Linked DNA regions of Homo sapiens. The protein of the gene in region 4 purifies or fractionates together with the protein of the main gene of each other region. This does not show direct contact. Each region holds a gene or a part of one and is shown on either strand. Other genes may lie near its edges. The genes, in order: DAP3, SH2D4A, STK3, ZNF133, STK4, MTERF3 and MCAT.

Region 1 (3,500 bases), on a different chromosome or scaffold from region 4:
AGCCTGGAATGCAGTGGCACGATCTCCACTCATTGCGGGCTCTGCCTCTTGGGCTCAAGCCATCCTCCCATCTTAGCCTTCCAAGTAGCTGGAGCTACATACAGGTGCAAACCACCATGCCCAGCTAGTTTTTTATATTTTTTGTAGGGACAGGGTTTCACTGTGCTGCCCAGGCTGACCTCAAACTCCAAACTCCTGGACTCAAGCAAATCACCTCTTGGCCTCCTAAAAGTGCTGGGATTTATCAGCCATCACACCAGGCCTTGCTGTTTATCTTCACATATATATACGAATATGTATGTGTGCATATGCATATACGAATATGTATGTGTGCATATATACGTATATATACATATATACATATATGAATATTATATATACATATATACATATATGAATATTATATATACATATATGAACATATAGGTATATTCGTATATTATGAAAACATATGAATATATGTATATATAAATATATATGAATATATGTGTGTATATATACATATATGAATATATATGTGTGTATATATACATATATATGAATATATATATATGGCGATCTCGGCTCACTGCAACCTCCGCCTCCTGGGTTCAAGCGATTCTCCTGCCTCAGCCTCCCGAGTAACTGGGATTACAGTCATGCACCACCATGCCCGGCTAATTTTGTATTTTTAGTAGAGATGGGTTTCTCCATGTTGGTCAGGCTGGTCTCGAACTCCAAGCTCAGGTGATCCGCCCGCCTCAGCCTCCCCAAGTGCTGGGATTACAGGCATGAGCCACTGTGCCCAGCCATATATATATTTTTTAAGAGACAGGATTTCACTCTGTCACCCAGGTTGGTGTGCAGTGTTGCAATCATGCCACACTACAACCTTGAACTCCAGGGCTCAAGTGATCCTCTGGCCTCAGCCTTCCAGTAGCAGTGACTACAGGTGTGTGCCACCATGCCAGCTACCGGCTAATTTCTTATTTTTTTAGAGGCAGGGGCCTTGCTATAGTGCCCATCCTAGTCTTGAACTCCTGGCCTCAAGCGATCCTCCCACCTCAGCCTCGTGAGCCAATGGGATTACAGGCGTGAGCCACTGCACCCAGCTCTTTACTGTTTATCTTCAAATATTCCTAGGGCAAGAAAACATATTGCATGGTCTACAAGGCTAAGACCCAGCCTCCATACTGATGGAATCAGAAATCAGAGAAACAAGATAGAGACACCCAGTTTTCCTACCGGGCTTTTATCTTCTCTTTTCAGAGTGGTTCTTCCCCAAAGAGCATTGATTCCATCCACGGCCACTAGGAGGTGAAACATACCCAAAGAACTTTGCCTCTTTAGCTCTTTCAGCACAATTCCAACTGCATCTGTGGCGTTCCTCACCCGTGTTATGCCCTATTGGGAGAGACAGTGGATTGTAGTGCTACCAGAGGCCTTCTCTTGTTATCGCATGTTACACATTCAGTGTTTTTTCTTATACCTGTTCAACCACTTCTCCCAGAGGACTCCCTTTCTCAGTGCTTTCTCTCTTATTCCAGACATACTTCTCTTGAACTTTTATCTAAAAGCAAGCAAAGAAAATAAAAACCAAAAAAAAGGCTACTTGGCCTAAGGGTGAAACCATCCCTTGAAAAGGTTGGAGGCTAAGGTTAACAGGAGTTCATTTTAATCTATTGTTCAGGTTCTGTAAGAGACCTCAATGTAGAAGTGAATGCTTTCTTTTCTTTCTTTTTTTTTTTTTTTGAGACAGCTTCTTTCTCTGTAACCCAGGCTGAAGTGCAGTGGCATGATCTCAGCTCGCTGCAACATCCACCTCCCAGGTTTAAGGGATTCTCTTGCCTCAGCCTCCCAAGTAGCTGGGATTTCAGGCGTGTGTCACCACGCCTGGCTAATTTTTGTATTTTTAGTAGAGATGGGGTTTCGCCATGTTGGCCAGGCTGGTCTAGAATTCCTGACCTCAGGTGATCTGCCCACCTCGGCCTCCCAAAATGCTGGAATTACATGTCTGAGCCACACGCCTGACCTCTTTTATCTTTTTTTTGAGACCATATCTCGCTCTGTTACCCAGGCTGGAGTACAATGGCGCTATCTCGGCTCACTGAAACCTCTGATTCCCAGGTTCAAGAGATTCCCCTGCCTCAGCCTCCTGAATAGATGGGCCTACAGGCGTGCACCACCACACCCGGCTAATATTTGTATTTTTAGTAGAGATGGGATTTCACCATGTTGGCCAGGCTCATCTTGAACTCCTGACCTCAGGTGATCTGCCTGCCTTGGCCTCCCAAAGTGCTGACATTACAGGTGTGAGCCCCTGTGCCTGACCAAAGTGAATGCTTTCTAATCCATTTCTGCTTGGAGCCTTGAATAAACATACATAAGGGATTCTGATGAAAATGTCCAGAATGAGACTCTGGCATCTGCATTTTTAACAAGCTCTTAGGTGACTCTGCTTTATATCCAGAGTTGAAGGCCCCTGGTCTAGACAGGGTATCTAAGAATCACCAGGGTAAAGAAGAATTTTTCCAATACATTTCTGGTTCCCTAAAAAGATATTGTCTGGAGAAAATCATGTAGTTGGAAATGTGCTTGCGAGGGATTGGAGGCTGTACCTTGAAAAGTCAATGAATCAACTGGATTTCACTTTGCTACCCACAAAATGGGAACAACTTACTGTTGCCTATTTATTTCACATGGATAAATGAGTTTCAAGTTATGAGTCCACTGTGAGCAAAACGTATGAAAGAAATTAAAAATGATACAGTTATTCCAACTCCAGTATCAGTTCTCCATAGTCTATTGGTACTCAGGGCACAAAGAATCCATGTAAGGACTACCTAGCACTCAACTTCTGGGAGTCTAGTCACCTGGTTCAGGAAGCGCTCATTTGTAGTTTTGAAATTCTTCAGCCAGGTTGAAGCCTCTAAAGGTTGATCAAAGCGCTGTTTGTTGTAGCTGGACTGCAGAAGATCCCGACAATTTTTCACCCAAAGATGAGCTTTAAAAAAAAGAGGCAGAAGAAAACAAGCCAGGCAGAAACTGTATTCAACTCGAAATATTCTATGCCTCTTTTAAGTTATGGGAAATGACTTTAGTTTCTCATATATATATTTCTTTTCTTTTTTTTTTTTTTTTTTGAGACAGGGTCTTGCTCTGTCACCCAGGCTAGAAGGCAGGATGTGATCACAGTTCACTGTAACCTTGAACTCCTAGGCTCAGGCAATCATCCTGCCTCAGCCTCTCAAAGTGCTGTTGAACCACTATGCCTGGCCTTGTCAGGTCCATCTTAGACTAAACATTATCATTAGAATCAATATATAAAACATACCAAGTGTATTAAATATCACTTCTGCTTTCTGGCAGGTTTGAAAGGTAAGTCAGAAAATGTGGATGTTACATAAGCAGGGTTGTTTAAAAAAGAAAGAAAATGTGGATGCACACAACACTGAACAAAAAAGAGACAAATGCAAGTTTTGACAATCCATACTGACGACTCTAGAATGCTGATAAATAGT
Region 2 (3,500 bases), on a different chromosome or scaffold from region 4:
ACGGTGGTCCTCATGTCTGTCCCAATTTCCACTTCACCACCTCAGGGTAAGGCTGTCAACATCACTGCCCAGAGCCAGAGGAGGACACCCAGAGCACCCCAGGTACCCAGCAGAGGAGCGCCATCACCTGCCTCAGTTTCCCTCCGAGTTACCTTCCTACATCTGCAGTTGATGTCACTTCCCTATTGAAAAACCTCACCGTCCAGAGAATAAGTTCCAAACTCCTAAATCTGGCCTCTGAAGCAGTTGTCCAAGTGTATTCCAAATGCTCAGAAGACCTCATCATTCCCCAAAGAACCATCCGTAGTCAAGTCTAGGGATCTTGGTTAAGCCCTCTGCCTGCACTTTCCTTCCTGGCCTTCTGTAGCTGGAAAACCACTCCTTTCAAGGTTTGGTTCAGATTTCACCTCGTCTGTGGATCAGAATGATAGGTTCCCACCTATGCTTGGTAAACTTTCTGTTTGTACCTTAATTATAGCACAAATCACAGCCTGCACTGGCCGCAGTGAGCTGTGCATATGTCTACTTCTCCTCCTAGACTGGAAGCTCCCTGTTTCTCTTTGAATTCCCAGTACCTTGCACTGGGTAGGCACCTAAAGAGCCTGATTATCCAGCCGCCTGTATCTAAGTGATCTCCTTGGAAGGCCTGAAGCTTGCACAGTCACTGCATTTCTCACATATGTTCCTGATACTCAGCTGCGTCGGCCTGCATTGCTCTAACATGACTCTAGTGCAGCCACGGGTGATCACTGGGGAACTCATACACTCATACAGATCAAAACTGGAATGACAAGCAGGGAGATGAAGCAGCTGATTTGACAGCACTAAAGATTTTCATGAGGTCTTTAGTGCTATCAAAGACTTTAGATCAAAAGTCTAAATCAACCTTCTAAAGAGATCCAAAAGGTCTTTAGACCAAAAGTCTAAATCAACCTTCCAAAGAGATCCAAAGTGACTTTTGTGACCCTCCAACCCAACCCTACTCTCCCACCTGATACTGTGAGCAAGAGGTGTGTTTGCAATGTTTTCTAAAGTCTGGAGAGTCTTTAAGTCTCTGGTTGGTTTGCAGATCTCATACCTGGGCTCTTCTGCCTCCTGTTCTGCTTTCAGCCGGGCCCTCTCAGCAATAATTTCATTACAGAGCACATCATAGGGTTTATCTAGATGGTGTTCGCCCATCACCCATACCCAGACTTCCTTATCAGCTCCAAGTTTCCAATGAACCGATTTGCCATTCTCTGCAAACAAACACACAAACAAAAAATTCAGATTGAACAAATATCTTTAGTCACAGATTACTGTTTCCATCACTAAAGTATTTTGGGTCTTTGAAAATATATATATATATATCAGATGAGACAAAGAACTTCCAACTGCTCAGGAACATCTGTAGGTAGCAATGGCAGTGGTGGCAGTGAGAGGCAGCTTCAGTGAAAATATTTGTTTTAAAAATATTAGGGGTATGTTTTTTGCCCGTGCTTTTTTTTTTTTTTTTTTTTTTGACAGTCTCACACTGTTGCCCAGGCTGGAGTGCAGTGGCATGATCTTGGCTCACTGCAACCTCCGCCTCTGGGTTCAAGCCGTTCCCCACCTCAGCCTCCCAAGTAGCTGGGATTACAGGCACCTGCCACCATGCCCAGCTAATTTTTGTATTTTTAGTAGAGACAGGGTTTCACCATTACAGGCATCTGCCACCACGACCAGCTAATTTTTGTATTTTTAGTAGAGACAGGATTTCACCATCTTGGCCAGGCTGGTCTTGAACTCCTGACCTCGTGATCCACCCACCTCAGCCTGCCAAAGTGCTGGGATTACAGGTGTGAGTCACTGCGCCTGGCTGCATGTGCCTATTTTATAAATGAAGAAACTGAAATGGGAAGCAAGCATTCATTGTTTGCATTATCCTTTAGGGTAACAGAGCTAGCACTTCACACCATAAATTCTTACATCTAACTATCTCCCTGTAACCCAGAATTCCACAGCTGCTCAAGGGTGTGGCATTTGTACTACATTCACAGGCTTCATAGGTGGGTAAAAAGCAGGTTTTATTATTTTATTTATATTGTATTTTATTTGTATTTATTATTTTATTTTAGAAATGGTGTCTTGCTCTGTCACTCAGGCTGGAGTGCAGTGGTGAGCTCATAGTAGTTAGGAATGCAGGCATGCATTACCATGCCCAGCTAATTTTTAAAATTTTTTGTAGAGACAGGGCTTTGCTTTGTTGCCCAGGCTGGTCTCAAACTTCTGGCTTCAAGCAATCCTCTTGCCTCAGATAAGGAGGTATTTTAGATTTAGACCACCTTGAGTTCAAATCCTAGCCCTGTCACTTACGAGCTATGTGACTTGGACAACTTTCTTAAACTCTTTAGACTCAATTTCCTCATCTGCAAAATGGGAATACCAATATTTACTACCTAGGGTTGCTGTGGGCAGGCAGGCTACCTGTGCCAAGTTCTTCCCCTAGTGCCTGCCACATAACAGGAGTTCAATAGAGGTTAACTGCTATCATTGCTAGCCTATTATTTACTTATATGGCTGCCTCAGAGATTCACACCAGCCTGTGAGAAGATAATATAACCAGGTAGTATGATACTTGGTGAAGCTACTTAAATAACCCTTGTTTACAATTGGCCTCCAGGTTAGATTATATCCTAGTGCTCCTGAAATGCGGCCACATCGGTCATGCTCCCTTAAACCGGGGGCAGGTGGAGCGTACCTAGGAGAGGCCAACAGAGACCATCCCTGAGTCTGTCAGGCCTACCCAGGGCAACTGTGGGCCAAAGGTGGACCTCTAGTCAAGACCCCAAACTAGCAGTGGTGCTGACTGCATGGAAGAGGGCACCTGGCTGGTGTGTGTGCTGGGCCCTGTTTGATGAGCAAAACATCCACACTGGGATTGTGTCTTGTCCTCTCACACTAAGTCAAAGGAGGTTTCCAATTAAGGTGTCTTCTGTCCAACGTATTCTTGACTTTTGTACTGTGGCCTTGGGATACATTACCAAAGCAGGCTGCTCAAAGCCAGGCTCGTGCTTTCTTTTGACCCTTTCTACCCTTCTTGGTACAGTGGACACTCCTGCAGTATGTTCTAAACAGAGACGCTGGGCAGAGGGAACAGACTCAGACTCTGCACTACCAAAGAATTCCCATTTACTGTTTTCACTGTGGAGAAACAGCAAATGTGGCCTCCAGGTAAGGAGGGGAAGGTCAATCCCACCATGCCCAAATGGGGCTGGGCACCAGTGCCAGCTCCTGGCAAGCTCTTTGTCTGTTTGACATAATGCCAGATGGTTTGTTAACTTTAGAAAGCTGTCATACCTCATAAAACTCCCTTTATTACACTCTCTCAGGCCAACTAATAATATTTTTTTTATGTCAGCCTCTCAGCCTTCACCTAAGTAGTTCTCTGTCGGTATTTTTTTTTTGACAGCAAGAGGAAGATGCCCAGAAAGATGGCAAGTGGCACTGTGCCAGGGGAAGAAAAAGGAAGAGCAGAGGGA
Region 3 (3,500 bases), on a different chromosome or scaffold from region 4:
TTGTTGGAAGGATAAATTAATAGGGTGGACAGATGAATATTATCCTTTATTGATTATCAACTATATTTAAAACACTGCTAGGCATGTTTTGAATTTACCTAATACACACACCTGCACATATACACACAACAGAGAGACAAATATTTATCACTGAAACTCAGACAGAATTAAGCAACACAATTACTAAATGATTTGGCTTCACATCCCATGCTCTTCACTATACCACATCATTTGTTCAGAAAACATTTCATGAACTCTTACCAAGTGCTAGGTATTGTATTAGGTATCAAAAATACAGTGGGAAATAAACAAAAGCACACGCTCACAATAAAGCATGACAGTGCTGTAAGAGTGAAAGCTTGGGGTGAGATGGGAGCCTATTAGAGGGGCACTTATTCCTAACCTGGGGTTGATAGAGGAAGCAACCTCTTAACTGAGCCTGAGTGAATGAATATGATTTAGCAAAAGAAGCATAAATCCCACAGGAGGATTTAGGCATTGCAAGTGGCCAAAGGTAAAAAAGCTCTGTAAGAGCTGAGAAGCTGGAAGAAGGATGAAGAGGGAATAGAAAGGTAAGTAGGAACCAGAGCATATACTGCTTCTTAACTGGTGTTGAGCTTTAGCCTATAAGCAATTGGTAGTCACTGGGAGGGCATAAGCAGAAGAGAAATGTGCTGAAATCTGTATGGTGGGGAGGGAATGAAGATTGGAGGCAGAGGATCAGTTTAGAAGCCTCACAAGTGAGAAACTATGAGGACTTGCACTAAAGAAATGCAAGCAGAGATCATGAGAAGAGAATAGGGATATTTAGGGGGCAGAACTGATGAGATGTTACTTCCATGAAGGGTGAAGGAAGAAACGGAAATTAAGAATGACTCAATTTTTCAACCTTATTCCAAAGACCACATTTAAAACACCTATACAGCTTCTCTAGGTACTTGCATGATAACATTTCACTTTTTTTCTGTAAAGTAGGGAGCAACGTCATCTACTGAAACTGAGATGGGAGGCAGGAAGAAGAGATCTAGTGAAGATCTAAACTAGCCACTCTGTAGAATGAGGAATTGCTGAACAGAGAAACACAGGCCTCCAGGAAAGTTGAGGGCCCAAATGGGGGAGAAGGTCTTGATCTGGCAGCCCTCATCTGTGCAGATGGAAGATTATCTCCAGCAGCACTCAATAGCCAGGGTAAAGATGCAGAGAAGATGAACACTGAGACTGGACCATATCAAAGTTTTCCAGGAGAGGCAGAAAAGACAAGACATTAGGGCAGTGGAGTTTAGAATATAAGAGAGTGGCAGAAGCAATGAAATATAGCCTCTAAGAGGAGTTTAGAACATAAGAGAGTGGCAGAAGCAATGAAATAATGAAATATAGCCTCTAAGAGGAGTTTAGAACATACGAGAGTGGCAGAAGCAACGAAATAATGAAATATAGCCTCTAAGCTGGATATAGAAGTGAAGGGAGGGTGTGCTAATAAAAAGAAAGCAGACTAGGAACTAGGGTCAGGGAACTAGAGGGCTCTCATGATAGCATTTCCCAAAATGTGTTTCTCAGATGCTTATTACACAGGATGTTAATCACTGATACGTTCCTCATTAAAAGCTTTTCATGGTCAAATAAGTGAAGGAAAGTTTGGGTAATGTAATTTTTAAACTGTTTCCTTCCTGTACTATTTGTATTTAATAAGTTAATAATATATACTGTAGTTCTCTAATAATTTATCTCTAGGATAAATATGCATTTCCCAAATAATTCTGATTACTGTATATTATTTATCTATATTTATCAGAGAATTTCACTGAATGGGTATCTTAAGGAACACATTTTCAGAGGGTCTGCTCTGTGAAATGAGAAGCAGGGATGGTAGAACACTTGAAAAGAAAGTATCTTACCAAGGCAGGAGGTTTACCTGAAAGTTCTCTTAGCTTCCAGAGCTATGTATCTTTAATTCTACTATAACACACACACACACACACACACACACACACACACACACACACACACAGCTTGACTCTGACTCTACTGTAATTAGTATTCATTCATGAAACCAATATTCCAAGAGCATGTACTATTATGTGGCAGAGGAGATTTATACAGCATTCTTACCAGGACAAACTTCGTGACTTATCTGGAGAAACAACAGATACACACATGAAAAATAAAAACCTGGCTGGAAAATATGGCTCTTCCTCAGATACCCATAAGACATAGTTTCCCTCCAGGGCAACTAGTGCTACCAATCTAGCCACAGCTCTGTAAGATCAGAAAGTTCCTCCATAAAAACAGAGCTAACTGAGTAGATCTGAGCTGAACAAACTAAAAAGCCCCAGTCTTTCTTTGCTGAAGCTACTACTCTCCCAGAGTCACCCATGATGAAATAATCTCTCCTACCCCATCAGTTTGATGACATAGATTCTTGACCTGGTCCTAATCTACTCCAGGATAATAAATCCTAAATTGATTTTCTTGAATGACAACCAACCTGCTTTTACCCAGTGTCAAGCATTCAGAATTCCAACTGGCACAGACTAGTATGGATAAAACATAATCCATAAGGAAGAAGTAGAGATCCACATGTAAATAATGGCTAGTGCCAGACTGTGAAGGATCTTGGTGACACAGCTGAAGCCTGGACATTCCATGGGGAATGAGGAGGCCTTAGGGATATCTGAATAGGAAGACTGGGAGCGGGAGGGTAAAAGTAATGCCATCATTGCTAAAAACAGGTTTAGAAAGTTATTCTTGGGACATGCCCATAGGGTCCACGTCCATTTTTTAAAAGGCAGATCAAATTTTAAAATACTTTTTGTCATTTTTCTCCACTTCCCTTCAAAGGGTCTGTGGGTAATTTTCCTTTCTAGAGGTAAGGAAAATAGGCCCATAATTTCTAGCTTCATGGTTAAAGGTATAAAAGAGTAAGTGTAAACATAATTTAAACTGACAAGGATGTTAAATCAGGCAACTCACTTGAAACTCCAATGGAAAAAGAGATGAAATTCTAAATCTTCAGTACACATTGTAGAGATTTTAGAAAACCAAAAATAATATACTGCTATCATCTTATTAGGGAACAAAAATGCTAAAGACACATTAGCAAATGTGGCTTTGACTGATGTGACATAAGCTGAGACCTCATACCAACTAATTTAAGAAGTTTTAAAGATTTAGATCACGAGAAAAACAAAACTACAATAATTATATGGTTTCAGAAAAAGTAAGTCTTCCCTCAATAACTTCTTCACATACTTTACTACTGCTATACTACAATATGACAATCCCTAGGGGTTATACTAACATCACTTGATTAGAATTTTGGAAACACTGAAGTCTCACATTACAGAATGATGTCTAACTTGTAAAAACAAAAAACACAGAAAGTTGGCTCATGGGATTTAAAATTTGCTGAGGTCCATAAAACAACTGCAGCTATAAAAACCACTTATCTGTTCAACTTCAAAATTGGTTTTCACTAAAATCTCTGTGACAAAAAGTCATAC
Region 4 (4,052 bases):
AAGAATATTTTTTGGTGTCACTTGAAAAAGCCTTACTAAAATATTCGAAACATAACAGAAGGATAGCAACGCAGACAACAAACATAGATAATTCTTTCAAGGAGTTCAGCTCTAAATGGGAGGAAAGACAAGGCAAGAAGGTGAAGAAGAGACAGGAAGCTAGGGCAGTGCAGAAATGGAGACAAAGGGAAAGAAAAGGAATCGAGAAGAATGCACAGGTGGAATAGGAGGATACAACTTTTGTTTTGTTTTGAGGTGGAGTCTTGCTCTGTTGCCCAGGCGACAGATTCTCCTGCCTCAGCCTCCTGAATAGCTGGGATTATTGGTGTGTGCCACCACGCCTGGCTAATTTTTGTATTTTTAGTAGAGATGGGGTTTCACCATGTTGGCCAGGCTGGTCTCGAACTCCTGACCTCAGGTGATCTGCCCGCTCTGGCCCCCCAAAGTGCTGATTACAGGTGTGAGCCACTGTGCCCGGCCAGGAGGACACAACTTCTAATGGGAAGTAAGTTTGGAAACAAGGATGCAAGGAAAACTCAGAGGTCCAGCTTATATCAAGTTATAAGGCTGTCAACACAGATCAGCAAGATCAGAAGAAATAGGAGGAGAAATGAGGCAGAGATAGGGAAAACTGGGATGCTGTTTCCAGATACTTTTCCCTCTCCTGCCTCTGACCAGGGCTGTTCTGACTGGTGGAAAAAAAAGATTTTTTTTTTAACAATGGGGGAAAACAATATGGGCTAGATATTAAATGATATTAATAAGTTATTAATTTTGTTGGGTATAACAAAATATAATTGTAACAATGTAACTGTATAACAATGAAATTGTGGTTATGTTAAAAAAAGAAGTCCTTATGTGTTAGAGATGCCTCCTGAAGTGTTCCCAGGTGAAATGATATAACTGGGATTTGCTGCCAAAACTCTAGCAGGGAAAAGAGTAAGTGAGAGTATTGGAAGACAGAAGAACAGAATGTTAACAACTTCACAGGACCTGACAAGCCCTGGGAATGAGCAGTCTGAACAAATACTGAAAGAAGGAATGTAGGGGAAGAATATAGGTGTAATGAATGAGAGCATCAGCTCTGAAAAATATTCCCTGTGAAAATGATCACTCTTAAAACAAGCCTAGTTTCCTGAAGGAACCAGCTGGGGCCCTGATCCCTGGATGGGACATTGTAGAACACAGACGTCAAAGCTGAGCAAAAGAAACCCACTCATGGTTCGAAATGCAAAAGGTAAGTGGCACCCACCTGAAGCTGGGCTGTCAGGAGCTCAGGAGTACCCCCTTTCCCCAGCAGGCAGTCCTCTCTGGGCAGACAGGAGCCACAGGGAGGCAGAACAAGAACAAAAAGCGTTCAAGAAAATCAAGGGAAATCCTCTCCAGCAGGGCAGTACCTCCTATTCCTTAACAGCATCAGGAATGAACCTGCCACAGAAGAAAAGGAGAAAAGAACTGCGGGCAGCTTCCTGGGAACACAGCTGGGGTACAGGTTGAAAGCACGACCTGCCCTGATATGCTGTTGACGCTGAGCATGAAGCGACCTTCTCTGTGCCTGTTATTAATGAAAGGTAATATTCACTGAACACTTAGTATACACCAGAGACTGTTACAGCCACTGTAGGAGTTTCACCTCATTCTATCCTTTCAACAACCCAATACGATAGATGCTATTATCCTCTTTAGGATAAAATCGAGGAAACTGAGGTACAGTGAAGTCAGCATCTTGCCCAAGGTGACACAGCTATAAAGTGACAGAGCCTAGAGGAAATGTGGCTGTGGAGACCGTGCTCTTACACAGTAAGGGCAGTGACGGTGAACTCTGGATTGCAAGGATTCTCTGTGTCCATTCTGAGATGAATCAAGATTGGTCATAAGGTTTTAAGTGTTGAATCTGGGTGATGGAGATCTGGTCTATAGAGTTCTATCTACTTCTGGCTGTTTGAAATTTCTCCGCAATAAAAACTTAAATGGAATGTAAAATCCCAAAGCCTGGCCACACCAGGGGCCTGGGAATCCGTAATTCTTGCGATCAATGACGGTCCCTGGGACCTTTGGAAAAAACCTGTCCTGTGCGTCCCAGCCAGACTTCCTCCTCCAACGCCCGAACCCGGGGGTGACCAACCAAAGTGAAACCCTAAGATCGCGGCAAAATGGCCACCCCAGATCCAGTCTAACCTTGGCTTGTTTGGTCAAGCCAGACCGCTCCTCATTCCACTCCAGCAAAGCCGAAGAATAGTGTGGCCCCAAGAGACTAGCCCTCAACCGACCAATGCCTCGGGGACACATGGCCCCAGGGATGGTTCCCATTCCACCACCTGGGAAATACCATTCCCCCAAAAAGCTTATTTATTCAACTCCCCCAAAACCGGGGACTTATGGCATCAGCGACTCCCTTTCCCAATACCCGACTTCAGCCAAAGCCGAACCTGTCCCCACCCACAAGAACCCTAGGAGAGAGAGCCCGATCCCCCACTCATCACCATCCAGTTTCACGGATGGGCTTCACCCAACTCCCCTGGAGATGCACGCCCACACCCCCAAAATAAGACATCTGGGAGAGGACGGCCTGCGCCACGCCAGCGCGTTCCCACCACAATCACCACCCCCGCGCCACCCGCACGGTCCCCAAATTCAGCCCATAGTCCAGCCTTTCGGGACCTTCCTTTTCGCGCAGAAAAGGGTACGGCTGCGGCAAGGGTCCCGCGGGAGCCTCACTCACCAGCGCCACCAAAGAACAAGGGGTCGCTCCAGCCACCAGCTGGGGAGCTCCTCCAGCGGGGCGCCAGGACTACACTACCCCGAATCCTCGGCACAGCGCCCGGACCACACCTCCCAGGATGCTCGGCGCCACCAGGCGCGCCCTGAAGGCCGGCAGCTCCCATTGGCCTCTGACGGATCCGTTTCTGAGTAACACGCTCCGGTCACCGGAGAATGGCCACTGTGGCACCTGAATTCTCCCTCTTTTTTCTTAACCACGTGCATAAAACACGTAGGAGCTCCCGAGAAGAGTGCCTGGCCCTACTGTGACCCTCCTTCTGAGCGCCTCTGTCTCGAAAACTACACTTCCCAGTGACCCCTGGAGCGACTTCCGCACCCGGTACCGGCCCCGCCCCTTGGCGCGCGGAAATGACGTTTCGGGGCGCATCTGTTCGGCTTCTGGGGTTGGCGGAGGTGTACCGCTGGCTGACCAAGCTTGTTCAGGTGCTGGTTTGTGTTGCAGCGGCCTGTGGTCTCCCTGGCTCCAGCCGCCTGCTTGGAAAGTCACGCCCCATATTCCTAAACACCGGGCGAACGTCATGTCGTATACCCTTTAGCTCCATTTAAAGCCTTGAAAAGGCCGAGCAGTCTGCCTGAAGTCTCACATCCCGTACGAGGTAGACCCGATTCTGAGCCCACGCCCTCAACCCGAATACACCTTTTCCGGTGCCCTGAGACCTTTTTCTTCTTTTTGAAATCCACGAAGTTATTGTTAAACTCTCATCTCCTGAGAAGCAGAAGCCTCAGTCTCGGGCCAGAGCTTGGCCTGCCGTCGGCTTGGATCTCTAGGTCTTTGTCCGGGATCCTGGTTGAGAACAAGATTGCGCTGGTGCCATCTGGGACGCCCCATCTGGGGAGCTCGAGGGGAAGGCCCACGTCACTCTTGAGAGGGCTTTTCCACCCGTGCACCCTCTCACTGCCCTTCACCTTCCTCAGATAGGCTTTCTGAAACTTTGTCATTCTCTTGGAAGACCAAGAAAATGACCACTGTCTGAAGGGCCAGGGAGATGAGAATTTCCTAAAATTCTTTTGTAGCTCTCAGAGGGTGAATCCATTCCCTTCTGGTACCCCGAGGCTACATTATTTATTGTGAATTCAGTTCAGTCCTGGCTCCGGAGACATGTCCAGTGTCAATTGGATTCATCCCTCAACATCATTCTCTGCCTCATGAGTCAGTCATCACCAAGAAATTAGTTGTTAATACACATAAAGGTTCAGAACAACAATGCAGGGATGCCTGTGTTCAAGTGTTCACTTGTGCTGGCTGTACAATAAAGACACAGATGGCTGAC
Region 5 (3,005 bases), about 27 Mb from region 4:
CTGGGATTACAGCATATGCCACCATGCCCAGATTATTTTTTTGTATTTGTAGTAGAGACGGGGTTTCACCATGTCAGTCAGGCTGGTCTTGAACTCCTGACCTCAGGTGATCCACCCGCCTCAGCCTCCCACACTGCTGGGATTACAGGCATGAGCCACCGCTCCTGGCCTCTCTTTCTTTTTTAAACAAAGAACTTTGCACTTGGCCAGAGAGGAGGAGAAAGCCCATTTTCTCCCTTCCTAAGCTAGATCCAAATAAAAGAAAGTTCAGTTTTCCCCCATAACTATTCTTGGGTCATGAACTTTGATCTGGAGTTTGTTTTGTTTCAGGAATGTGTGCACCCAGCTTGCTGATCCAACAAAGTCTATTGCTTACCAGTCTAGCTTGATGAAGCCTTTTGGCCAGAAGTCAATTTGTTTTGGATCAGAGAAATTTCCTGACAAGGTATATTTGTTTTCTAGTGACAGAAAGGCAAAGGAACAAGTCCTAGTTGTTGTTGTTGTTGTTGAATACTAAATTTAAGATATGTCAGCTTGCTTTCAATGAGCCTTGGGCTTCTGTTATTGCTTGAGCATTTGGAACTCGAGCTTCCAGAGAAATTTGAGGTCCTCGCTTGTTCTCTGCCTTCAAGAAACAATGACCTGATTCTGTCTTTAAAAAAAAAAATCTCAGAATTCTTTTTTTGTTTGTGTTTTTTTTTTTTTTTGAGACAGAGTCTCACTCTGTTGCCCAGGCTGGAGTGCAGTGGCGCCATCTCGGCTCACTGCAACCTCCGCCTCCCAGGTTCAAGCAATTCTCCTGCCTCAGCCTCCCAGGTAGCTGCCACTACAGGTGCTGCACCACCACGCCCGGCTAATTTTTGTATTTTTAGTAGAGACAGGGTTTCACCATATTAGCCAGGTGGGTCTTGAACTCCTGACCTTGTGATCCACCCGCCTCGGCCTCCCAAAGTGCTGGGATTACAGGCGTGAGCCACCTTGCCTGGCCAAAAATCTCAGAATTCTTTAAGACTGTTTTAATTGCTCCATCAGTAATTTTGAAGCACTTTCCTTTTTTTTTTTTTTTCCCCTTTTTGTCCCTTTCCCCAAGCCACCAATTGGATGGATGAATGTTTGACGGGGAAGAGGAAGGGTAGGAGGATGCATGGATGAGTGGATGAGTGGATCGATGGATGTATTGATAAATAGATAGAACCAGTCATCTGAAGCAACTTAAGAATTGTAGCCTTGACTCCTTGAGACTGTAGATTTCGATCCAGGAAACATTTATTTAGCACCTGCCAGATGCCAGAAATTTATACCATTTAAAACTCAGTAAGTCTTTTAAATATCAGGAAGGAGAGAAGCGACATCATGATACATCCTATGGGTATTAAAAAGCCAATAGAATATTATGAATAATTTTATGCTAATAAATTTAACAACTTCAACATCATAAACAAATTCCTTGAAAAATAAAAAGTACCAAAATTCATTCAAGAAGAAATAGATACCAGCCTGAGCAACATGGCAAAATCCCATCTCTACAAAACATCAAAAAAAAAAAAAATTAGTCGGGCATGGTGGTGCACACCTGTAATCCCAGCTTGTCAGGAGGCTGAAGTGGGAGGATCACCTGAGCCCAGGGAGGTCAAGGATGCAGTGAGCCATGGTCTCACCACTGCACTCTAGCCTGGGTGACAGAATGAGACCCCGTCTCAAAAAAAAAGAAGAAGTAGATAATCTGAATAGCCCTATATCTATAGAAACTTAATAGTGCTGGGAGATATAGGTATTATTATCCTCATTTTACAGATGTGAAAATTGAGGCTCAGAGAAGTAAAGTCTATTGCTCAAGGTCATGTGGCTAGAATATGGCAGAGCCATGATTCAGATCCAGGTCTTCTGATTCTTATTCCAGTGTCCTTTCTAGCATACCATGTTGCCTCTAAAGATTGCAGCTCCTTATTTACTAGAAAATTGTTCCTGCCCAATCTACATCTCCACCTCACCCCATCTTTTCTTAAGCACTATGTTTGTGTTTTTATCAGTATTATATTCATTGTCTTTGGAATACATGTTCTTGTTTGTGTTTGGAAAAAAAATCTCTTTTACCAGCTTGCACTCGGACCAACTTGGAAAAAAAAAAGCTTAAATGTTTTTGCTATGTACAGTTTAAAAATGTGAAGTTTGTAGCTTTAACTTTTTGTAAGAAAATCTAATAACACTGGCTTAAGTGCTGACTTGAAATGCTATTTTGTAAGGTTTGGATGTAAGTAATCAATTGAGGTCAGCAGTTTGTATGAGACATAGCTTCCTCCATTGCCCCCACTCCTTTTTTCTTTTTTAAGTTTGAGATGCTTCCTGTGTTTTTATGTTAGAATTGTTGTTCTCCTTCTTTTCTTCTTCCTATACCTCATCACGTTTGTTTTAAATAAACTGTCCTTTGGACCACAAACCCTTATTAACGAGAACCTCAATATATAGCCTGGATAATGGTGTTGTGAACAATCTTTGTGACATTGACTCAGTGGTGTGTTTATTCTAAGATCCAAAGCTGGGGAGAGGTTGGTAAACTTTTGTTGGGCTTCTATTATGTGCCAGGGTACTGAGCTAGTTATCAGGAATATAATAAAGATGAACCAGATACAGTTTTTGCAGGGCATTTGGGGAGTTAGCCAAGCACAAAAACACACAACATTGAACATACCATGGTAGAAGAAGGTACAGGGCCTGTGGATACACAGAAGAGGGAGTGACGGTTCTGCTGGGATGTCCAAGGAAACTCTTCTAGAGGAGACAATATACCTTGAAACTTTAAAAATGAAGAAGAGATGGCTAGATTAATAAAGAGTAGGAAGTGAGGGAGAGAAGACATCCTGGACAGAAGAGCCCGCCTGTATAAAGCCTCTAGTGTGAGATGATCACCTTGGAATCCTTCATCCTCATCTGCTGCTGCACGAAGCCAGGCCAGACGTGGCCCAGCATTCAGAGGTGGAACAGCAGGTTCCTGCCCTGGTGTGGCC
Region 6 (3,500 bases), on a different chromosome or scaffold from region 4:
TGCTAAAGACCTAGAGATTACAACGATGAGTAAGGCACAGGGTCATTTTTATTCCCCCTATGATGGGAATCATAAACATATTTTTTAAATAATGCTTATAACTAAGGAAAAATAAAATCTTCAAAGAAGGTAACATTTTATTCATATTGTTTGTTACCCTGCAGAATTACCAGTTACTGTGGGGTTCATCTGGGACTGACAAACATTCTGAAACAATATTCAAGAAACCTTAGACAAAGATGATGACCCTACACCAATATGACTTAGTGAATTTGTTTTGGGGGGAAATGTAGCACTAAATGCTCTATTTTCCTCTGTACTTGATTTTTAAAATAAATACTATGTTGTTTCTGCAACCAACTTAGTTTAAAAATATTTAGAAGTTTCTATTGATCTATCTCAGTGCTCCTTTGGATAGGTGTTGATCTCCATCAGTAATTTCTTGTGCTTATGTATATGAGTTTAATGGGTGAACTAAGAAGTCATCTTCAAACAGTATTTATAATTTATTATAGGCGTGGATTTGTCCAAGATAGAAAAACATCCAGAAGCAGCAAACCTCCTTCTGAGACTGGATTTTGAAAAAGACATTAAGCAAATGCTTCTGTTTCTTAAAGATGTGGGTATAGAGGATAACCAACTGGGAGCATTCCTGACAAAAAATCATGCAATTTTCTCTGAAGACCTTGAAAATCTGAAGACCAGGTAGGACTTTTAAAAGGATTCTCATATAACCTAAGAAGTGGTTATGAAGGAAATATATGTGGAAGGTATTCTTTAAATCTCTGCTGCACAAGGGTCTACTGAGATAACATGAATTTTTTTTGTTATAGACCTTCTTTGATCTAAATTAAGTATTTACAACAGTTCTTTCATTCAAGTACCCATTCTTCTTCTCCCCCTCCCCCTCCCCCCCTCCTCCTCCTCCTTCTTCTTCTTCTTCTTCTTCTTCTTCTTCTTCTTCTTCTTCTTCTTCTTCTTCTTCTTCTTCTTCTGCCTCAGCCTCCCAAGTAGCTGGGTGACTACAGGTGGCCACCATGCCTGGCTAATTTTTGTATTTTTAGGAGAGATGGGGTTTCGCCACATTGGCCAGGCTGTTCTCGAACTCCTGACCTCAAGTGATCTGCCCATCTTGGCCTCCAAAGTGCTGGGATTTTACAGGCATGAGCCACCCTGCCTGGCTCCATTATTATTTTTATGTTTTCAACTTATTACTGAGTCAGTAATTAACTCTTTCTCTTTAGAAACTGGAATACGTTTTTTTCTTAAAAAAAAAAAAAACCCATCAACAAATAGCTAACTTATCTGAGAGTGCACTTAAAGATATGATCTTTTGTGGTTTTTGTAGTTTTTGTCTGGCCAATTTTTGTTGTTAGACATTTGAGATTGTCTTGGCAAATTACTGTATAATTTGCTTAATCATTTCCGTAAGTTGGCTATTTTGGTTGTTCCTTGTTTTCTTCTTAAGGAGCACTTTTATAAACATCTCTGTACTTCATTCAACATTCAAAGAATTATTGAATTTGTGAAAATAAATACAGTGAGATATTGATCTGTGAGGTAAGAATCCTGCTAGGCATTGGGAATACCACAGAGAACAAGGCAAAACCCCTGTCCCTAAGTTAACATGTTGAATTCATCGTCGCCCCCACCTGTCATTCAACCCAGTCTGTATTCCCAGATTCACTGAATACCCTTTTGCCCAACTCAGAAATACTGGTATTAACTTGCTTTCTCTTCTTTTATCATCTACATCTAATAAATCATGAAAGCCCATCAGTTCTTCTCTTCTTATAGCTCAAATCAGTCATGACATTTCTCTGAATCTTTGCTTTGACTATTTTGCCTCAGTTCCCCATAATATCACACCAAGATTACTGCAATGGTCTCCTAATTGGTCTGCCTCTAGTCATGACCCTCCAGACTGTTCTCCACACTGATGTTGATCCTTACTACATTTCAGAGAGCTTTGCGATTCCTTAAACCATCAGTCTAATGTCTTTTCTCGGAATTAGGAAAAAAAACTAAACAAAAACCTTATTTATTAAATTGAACATTTGAGCCCTTCTATATGTGAGACACTGGCCTAAACTTTAGACATCAAAAACAGTCTTTCCCTTCATGAGAGTGATAGTCTATCACAATACAGAAGGGAGAGAGAATGATTCTAAGAAACTCATCTGACATATCCAGCTCTAGTCTTCTTGGCTGTCAGGAACACTAATTCTCTCTGCAGTCAAAAACCAGCTTGCCCTTTTTGCTCAAGATTTATTCCAAGAAAGCATGAATACCAGGAGGGTAGGGATCATTTCACACGCTGCACCATTATTGTTAATAGCACCTTTGTACATAGGAGTCGCAGAGAGGTTAAATAATTTGCCCAAGATTACACACCGTTAGTATAAGTAGCAGAGTAAGTGGTTTCAACCCCAGTTAATCAAACTCCAGGGTTCTGACTACTACACACTGTCTCTACATTTAATTCTTTGAAGGAAACTTAATAGCTTAAGTTACTTGCTCAAGCCATATATGCTCCTAACAATTGAGGAATATTCTCACGTCGGTAGCATAGTCCATTGATTCCTAAACCTGGCTGGCTATCAAATTAAGCTGTAGAACATTTTTAAAAATTACTTAGAATTTTTTAATAGGTAATGCAGCCACATGTATTCAAAAGAGTATACAGTAAAAAATACTGAATAGGCACAGGTATGAGAACCTTTATTTAAATGAACTTTGTTTCTGGTTCTGATATATGCAGCAGTCTTATTTCTATAACAGCACTGATTTCATGTACTTATTTTTTAAATAAAAAGTTATATTTAAAAAATCCTTGTAGAATTTTCAAATGAATAGTCGCATTTTAATTATTTAAATACTCTTTTTTTGGTTGGGTGGGCCTTATATCTTGATTTTTTATTGGAAAAATCATTACAATGTAGACAATAGTTTTGATAATTTTTTAATCAAATGCTGAACCTTGCTGCCAAAAAAACAAGTAATACCTCCTTTTCTCCTACTTTGTCCCTTGGCCTTTCAAGACCCACCTATCGACACAGCTACTGTTATCAGGATTTTTTGTTCAACCTTCTAGGAAGCATATATCTGTGTATACACACATGAATACAAATACATAACAATTGGTAGCATTTATACACACTATTCTGTATCCCACTATCTTACCTTCACTGTATCTTGGAGATTATTTTTTCTTGGTGCTGCCTATTCTTTTTAACTCTAGTACAGTCCATGCTGCGGATCTCGCTAGTACCTATTGATAAGCATGGAGTATGTTTCCAGTCCACTGTTAGGACAAGGCTGTAGTGACTTACCTTGTACATACTTCTGAAAAATCACACATATTGGTGTCTCTCTGTAGGACGTATTTCTAGAAGTGGAAATGCTAGGTCAAAGGGTGTGTTCATCTGTAACTTCAATAGATATTGCCAAATTGTCCTTCATAGGGGTTGTTTTCCAGTTTATACTCTCCCCAACAGTGT
Region 7 (3,500 bases), on a different chromosome or scaffold from region 4:
CAGCATTCTTGCTCCTGCCTGCTTTGCAGCACTCGGTCTACCTCACTGCCCTGGCCCCAAAATACTTCCTAAAGACCGGGCTGGACCCAGCACCCGCCAGACTGCTAGGCCTCACGGGTGTGGAGCAGTTCCAACCCTCCGTACTGGACTGGCCTATGAAGGCAGTTCCCATCAACACCCACCTCTTGGTGTCCTGAAATCACCCTGCAATCTGGAAAGAGGTAGTTGGACACTTCACATACGGGGTTCTCTATGCCTAAAGACTTGCAGTGTTCCCGGGCTTCCAAACAGGCGAAGTTGAACTTGGACTGAGGCTGGCCGAGGACAGACAGCATCCCACTGGGGACAGCTTCTGAAGCTTCCTGCATGGCCTCAGCTCGGATTTTCACTGCATACAAACCTGGCCAGAGAGAAGCGCATTTGGAAAAATGAGGGCACAGAATGAAGGAGAAAAGGCCAGGCCTGAGAAACAAAGCCCAAGCTCCACTCTGCACTAGAGACAGGGGCACTGGTGTCTGCCACCAGCCAGCAGGGCCACAGTTCCACACACCTCCATCGACTGCACAAGCGCTCACCACCAAAAGTATGCTGCTGTGCTTGGCACTATACAAACTAACCCAAGGAGCTTCCTGCTATAAAGCTGGTTTGGAGTAGGACAGTGGTGCTCAACAGGCCGGGGGCAGTGTCCGGAGACGTTTTCCGGTTGTTCTGACTAGGGGAGAGTGCCACTGACGTCTAGTGGGTAGAGTCCAGGGATGCTGCTCAACATGCTGCACTGCACAGGTCAGCCCCCCTTGCCCCCAACAAAACAAATGACCTGGCCCAATAGCGCCACTGTTTTTTTTTTTTTTTAAATAGTGCCACTATTGAGAAACCCTGGTAAAAGGTAAAGAGGAACAGGGTGGAAGCCACATTGCCTTAGCCAAGTCACAACCTCCTTGAGGTTCAAATTTTTAGTTAGTAAAATGAGGATAATAATATCTAATCTGCCTGGGCTGTTGTGAAAGCTGGGAATTATTATTAGTTAGTTTATTAAGAGAGATCAGGCCGGGCATGGTGGCTTATGCCTGTAATCCCAGCACTTTGGGAGGCTGAGGCAGGACGGCTTGAGCCCAAGGAGCTCGACACCAGCCTGAGCAACATAGGGAGACCCTGTCCCTGCAAAAAATAAAATACAAATTAGCCAGGCATGGTGGTGCCTGCCTGTAGTCCCAGATGCTTGGGAGGCTGACACGGAAGGATCACTTGTGACCAGCAGGTTGAGGCTGCAGCTGTAGTAAGCTATGATTGCTCCACTGCACACCAGCCTGGTGACAGAGCAAGACCCTGTCTCAAAACAAGAACAACAAAAAAGAACCATCAGAGACATGGGCTACTGTACTACATGAATTTCAGTGACATAATTGTCATAAGTCAAGTGTTACTGTCCCCACTTAGAGCTGGAGAACCTGACACAGCCAATGCAGATGAACGAAAACCTATGACTCCTGATTCAGTGTGGCTCAAGAGCATGGAGAGAGGGCAGGCAGTGCCAATGATAATAAGAGTGGCCTGAGGGCTGGTCGCTGTGGCTCGCACCTGTAGTTCCGGCACTTTGGGAGGCCAAGGCAGGCAGATCACTTGAGCTCAGGAGTTCGAGACCAGACTAGACAACATGGTAAAACCCTGTCACTACCAAAAATACAAAAATTAGCCGGGCGTGGCAGTGTGCGCCTGTGGTCCCAGCTACTTGGGAGGCTGAGGTGGGAGGATTGCTGGAGCCCAGGAAGTTGAGGCTACAGTGAGCTGTGTTCATGCCACTGTATTCCAGCCTGGGTGACAGAGCGAGACCCTGTCTCAAAAATCCCTACAAAGCCACACATAAGAATGGCCTGAAACTACCAGACCCCTGACACCCTGGTCCTGCTTCCTGGGCAGAGAGAAGAGATGACCAGACTGAGAAGAGATTAAGGGACCTGCACAGTGTTTCACAGGTCAACAGAGAGGTCTAAGGAGCAAATCCTGACATATCTTCATTCACTTAGCACTTCTATGTACTGGACTTTTAGCTCCCTTACACAAGAACAGGAGGACAAATACATAAACAGCCTGTGACATCAGGTACTTAGGAGGCTAAGGCAGGAGGACTGCTTGAGATCAGGAGTTAGAGGCTGCAGTGAGCTATGGTTGCATCACTGCACTCAAGGCTGGAAGACAGAGGAAAACTCTGTCTCTTAAAAAACAAATGAACAAGAGCCTGTGACAAGAAGTAGAAGAAAACATACAAGAAAAGGGAGGAGAGCACGCAGACATCCTCCCACAGAGACATTCAAAACTATGTAAAATGTCAAGGGAAAAAAGTAGGCCAGGCACAGTGGCTAATGCCTGTAAGTAATCCCAGCACTGTAGGAGGCTGAAGCTGGAGGATCACTTGAGTCAGGAGTTCCAGACCAGCCCTGGCAACATAGCGAGACCCCATCTCTACAAAAACTTCTAAAATTAGCTGGGCATGATGGTGTGAGCCTGTAGTCCCAGTTAGTCTGGAGACTGAAGCGGGAGGATCACTTGAGGCCAAGAGGCTGAGGCTGCAGTGAGCTACGACTGCACCACTGCACTGCAGCTGGGGTGACAGAGCAAGATACTGCCTCAAAAAAGAAAAAGAAAAAGAAAACACAAAAGTGTAACTATGCTATAATTCTGCACTTTTTTTTTTTTTTTTGACACAGAGTCTCATTCTCTAACCCAAGCTGGAGTGCAGTGGCACAATCTCGGCTCACTGCAACCTCTGCCTCCTGGTTCAAGTGATTCTTGTGCCTCAGCCTCCCAAGTAGCTAAGATTACAGGTGCACGCCACCACACCCAGATAATTTTTGAATTTTTAGTAGAGATGGGGTTTTACCACGTTGGTCAGGCTGGTCTCAAACTCCTGCCTTAGGTGATCCACCCACCTTGGCCTCCCAAAGTGCTGGGCTGGGATTACAGGCGTGAGCCACCACACCAAGCCTAATTCTGCACATTATGTACACATAAAATGATACATGTAATAAAATTGTTTCATAAAATGTGAAATTATGAAACTTTCCTTAATAATGTTATAACGCTTAAAAAAAAAGCACTGCAGTGAAATTCACATAAAATATAATTAACCACTTTAATGTGTATAATTCAGTGGTATTTGGGGTATTCATAATGTTGTACAACCACCAACTCTCTCTAGTTTCAAACACTCCATGTCCACTATGTAGGCACTCTCCATTTCTCCCTCTCCAGTCCCAATAACCTCTCGTGTTTCTATACTAGATTCTTTTTTGTTTGTTTTGGACAGGGTCTTGCTCTGTCACCCATGCCGCAGTGCAGTGGCACAATCGTGGCTCACTGCAGCCTCAGACTCAGGGGCTCAAGTGATCTTCCCTCAGCCTCCTGAGTAGCTGGAATTACAGATGCATGCCACTAAGTGCAGCTAATTTTGTGTATGTGTGTGTGTGTGACAGGGTGTCACTCTGTCACCCAGGCTGGAATGC

Evidence for each region.
Region 1: the proteins of ZNF133 (region 4) and DAP3 purify together in Homo sapiens (affinity purification with mass spectrometry; 2 studies listed by BioGRID and IntAct, with this or other methods). This does not show direct contact.
Region 2: the proteins of ZNF133 (region 4) and SH2D4A purify together in Homo sapiens (affinity purification with mass spectrometry; one large-scale study listed by BioGRID and IntAct). This does not show direct contact.
Region 3: the proteins of ZNF133 (region 4) and STK3 purify together in Homo sapiens (affinity purification with mass spectrometry; 2 studies listed by BioGRID and IntAct, with this or other methods). This does not show direct contact.
Region 5: the proteins of ZNF133 (region 4) and STK4 purify together in Homo sapiens (affinity purification with mass spectrometry; 2 studies listed by BioGRID and IntAct, with this or other methods). This does not show direct contact.
Region 6: the proteins of ZNF133 (region 4) and MTERF3 purify together in Homo sapiens (affinity purification with mass spectrometry; one large-scale study listed by BioGRID and IntAct). This does not show direct contact.
Region 7: the proteins of ZNF133 (region 4) and MCAT purify together in Homo sapiens (affinity purification with mass spectrometry; one large-scale study listed by BioGRID and IntAct). This does not show direct contact.

What each region holds. Positions count from the first base shown.
Region 1 is NC_000001.11:155,727,091-155,730,590, reverse strand, and holds part of DAP3 (small ribosomal subunit protein mS29), read right to left. Parts: intron 2,984-3,500; coding exon 2,853-2,983; intron 1,550-2,852; coding exon 1,469-1,549; intron 1,384-1,468; coding exon 1,225-1,383; intron 1-1,224. UniProt on the Homo sapiens protein: As a component of the mitochondrial small ribosomal subunit, it plays a role in the translation of mitochondrial mRNAs. Involved in mediating interferon-gamma-induced cell death. Displays GTPase activity in vitro.
Region 2 is NC_000008.11:19,330,693-19,334,192, reverse strand, and holds part of SH2D4A (SH2 domain-containing protein 4A), read right to left. Parts: intron 1,239-3,500; coding exon 1,079-1,238; intron 1-1,078. UniProt on the Homo sapiens protein: Inhibits estrogen-induced cell proliferation by competing with PLCG for binding to ESR1, blocking the effect of estrogen on PLCG and repressing estrogen-induced proliferation. May play a role in T-cell development and function.
Region 3 is NC_000008.11:98,542,689-98,546,188, forward strand, and holds part of STK3 (serine/threonine-protein kinase 3), read right to left. Parts: intron 1-3,500. UniProt on the Homo sapiens protein: Stress-activated, pro-apoptotic kinase which, following caspase-cleavage, enters the nucleus and induces chromatin condensation followed by internucleosomal DNA fragmentation.
Region 4 is NC_000020.11:18,287,275-18,291,326, reverse strand, and holds the start of ZNF133 (zinc finger protein 133), read right to left. Parts: upstream 2,801-4,052; 5' UTR 2,723-2,800; intron 1,429-2,722; exon of another isoform or gene 1,253-1,428; intron 1-1,252. UniProt on the Homo sapiens protein: May be involved in transcriptional regulation as a repressor.
Region 5 is NC_000020.11:45,077,517-45,080,521, forward strand, and holds the end of STK4 (serine/threonine-protein kinase 4), read left to right. Parts: 3' UTR 1-2,505; downstream 2,506-3,005. UniProt on the Homo sapiens protein: Stress-activated, pro-apoptotic kinase which, following caspase-cleavage, enters the nucleus and induces chromatin condensation followed by internucleosomal DNA fragmentation.
Region 6 is NC_000008.11:96,248,111-96,251,610, reverse strand, and holds part of MTERF3 (transcription termination factor 3, mitochondrial isoform 1 precursor), read left to right. Parts: intron 1-515; coding exon 516-705; intron 706-3,500.
Region 7 is NC_000022.11:43,136,899-43,140,398, forward strand, and holds part of MCAT (malonyl-CoA-acyl carrier protein transacylase, mitochondrial isoform a precursor), read right to left. Parts: intron 401-3,500; coding exon 183-400; intron 1-182. UniProt on the Homo sapiens protein: Catalyzes the transfer of a malonyl moiety from malonyl-CoA to the free thiol group of the phosphopantetheine arm of the mitochondrial ACP protein (NDUFAB1). This suggests the existence of the biosynthesis of fatty acids in mitochondria.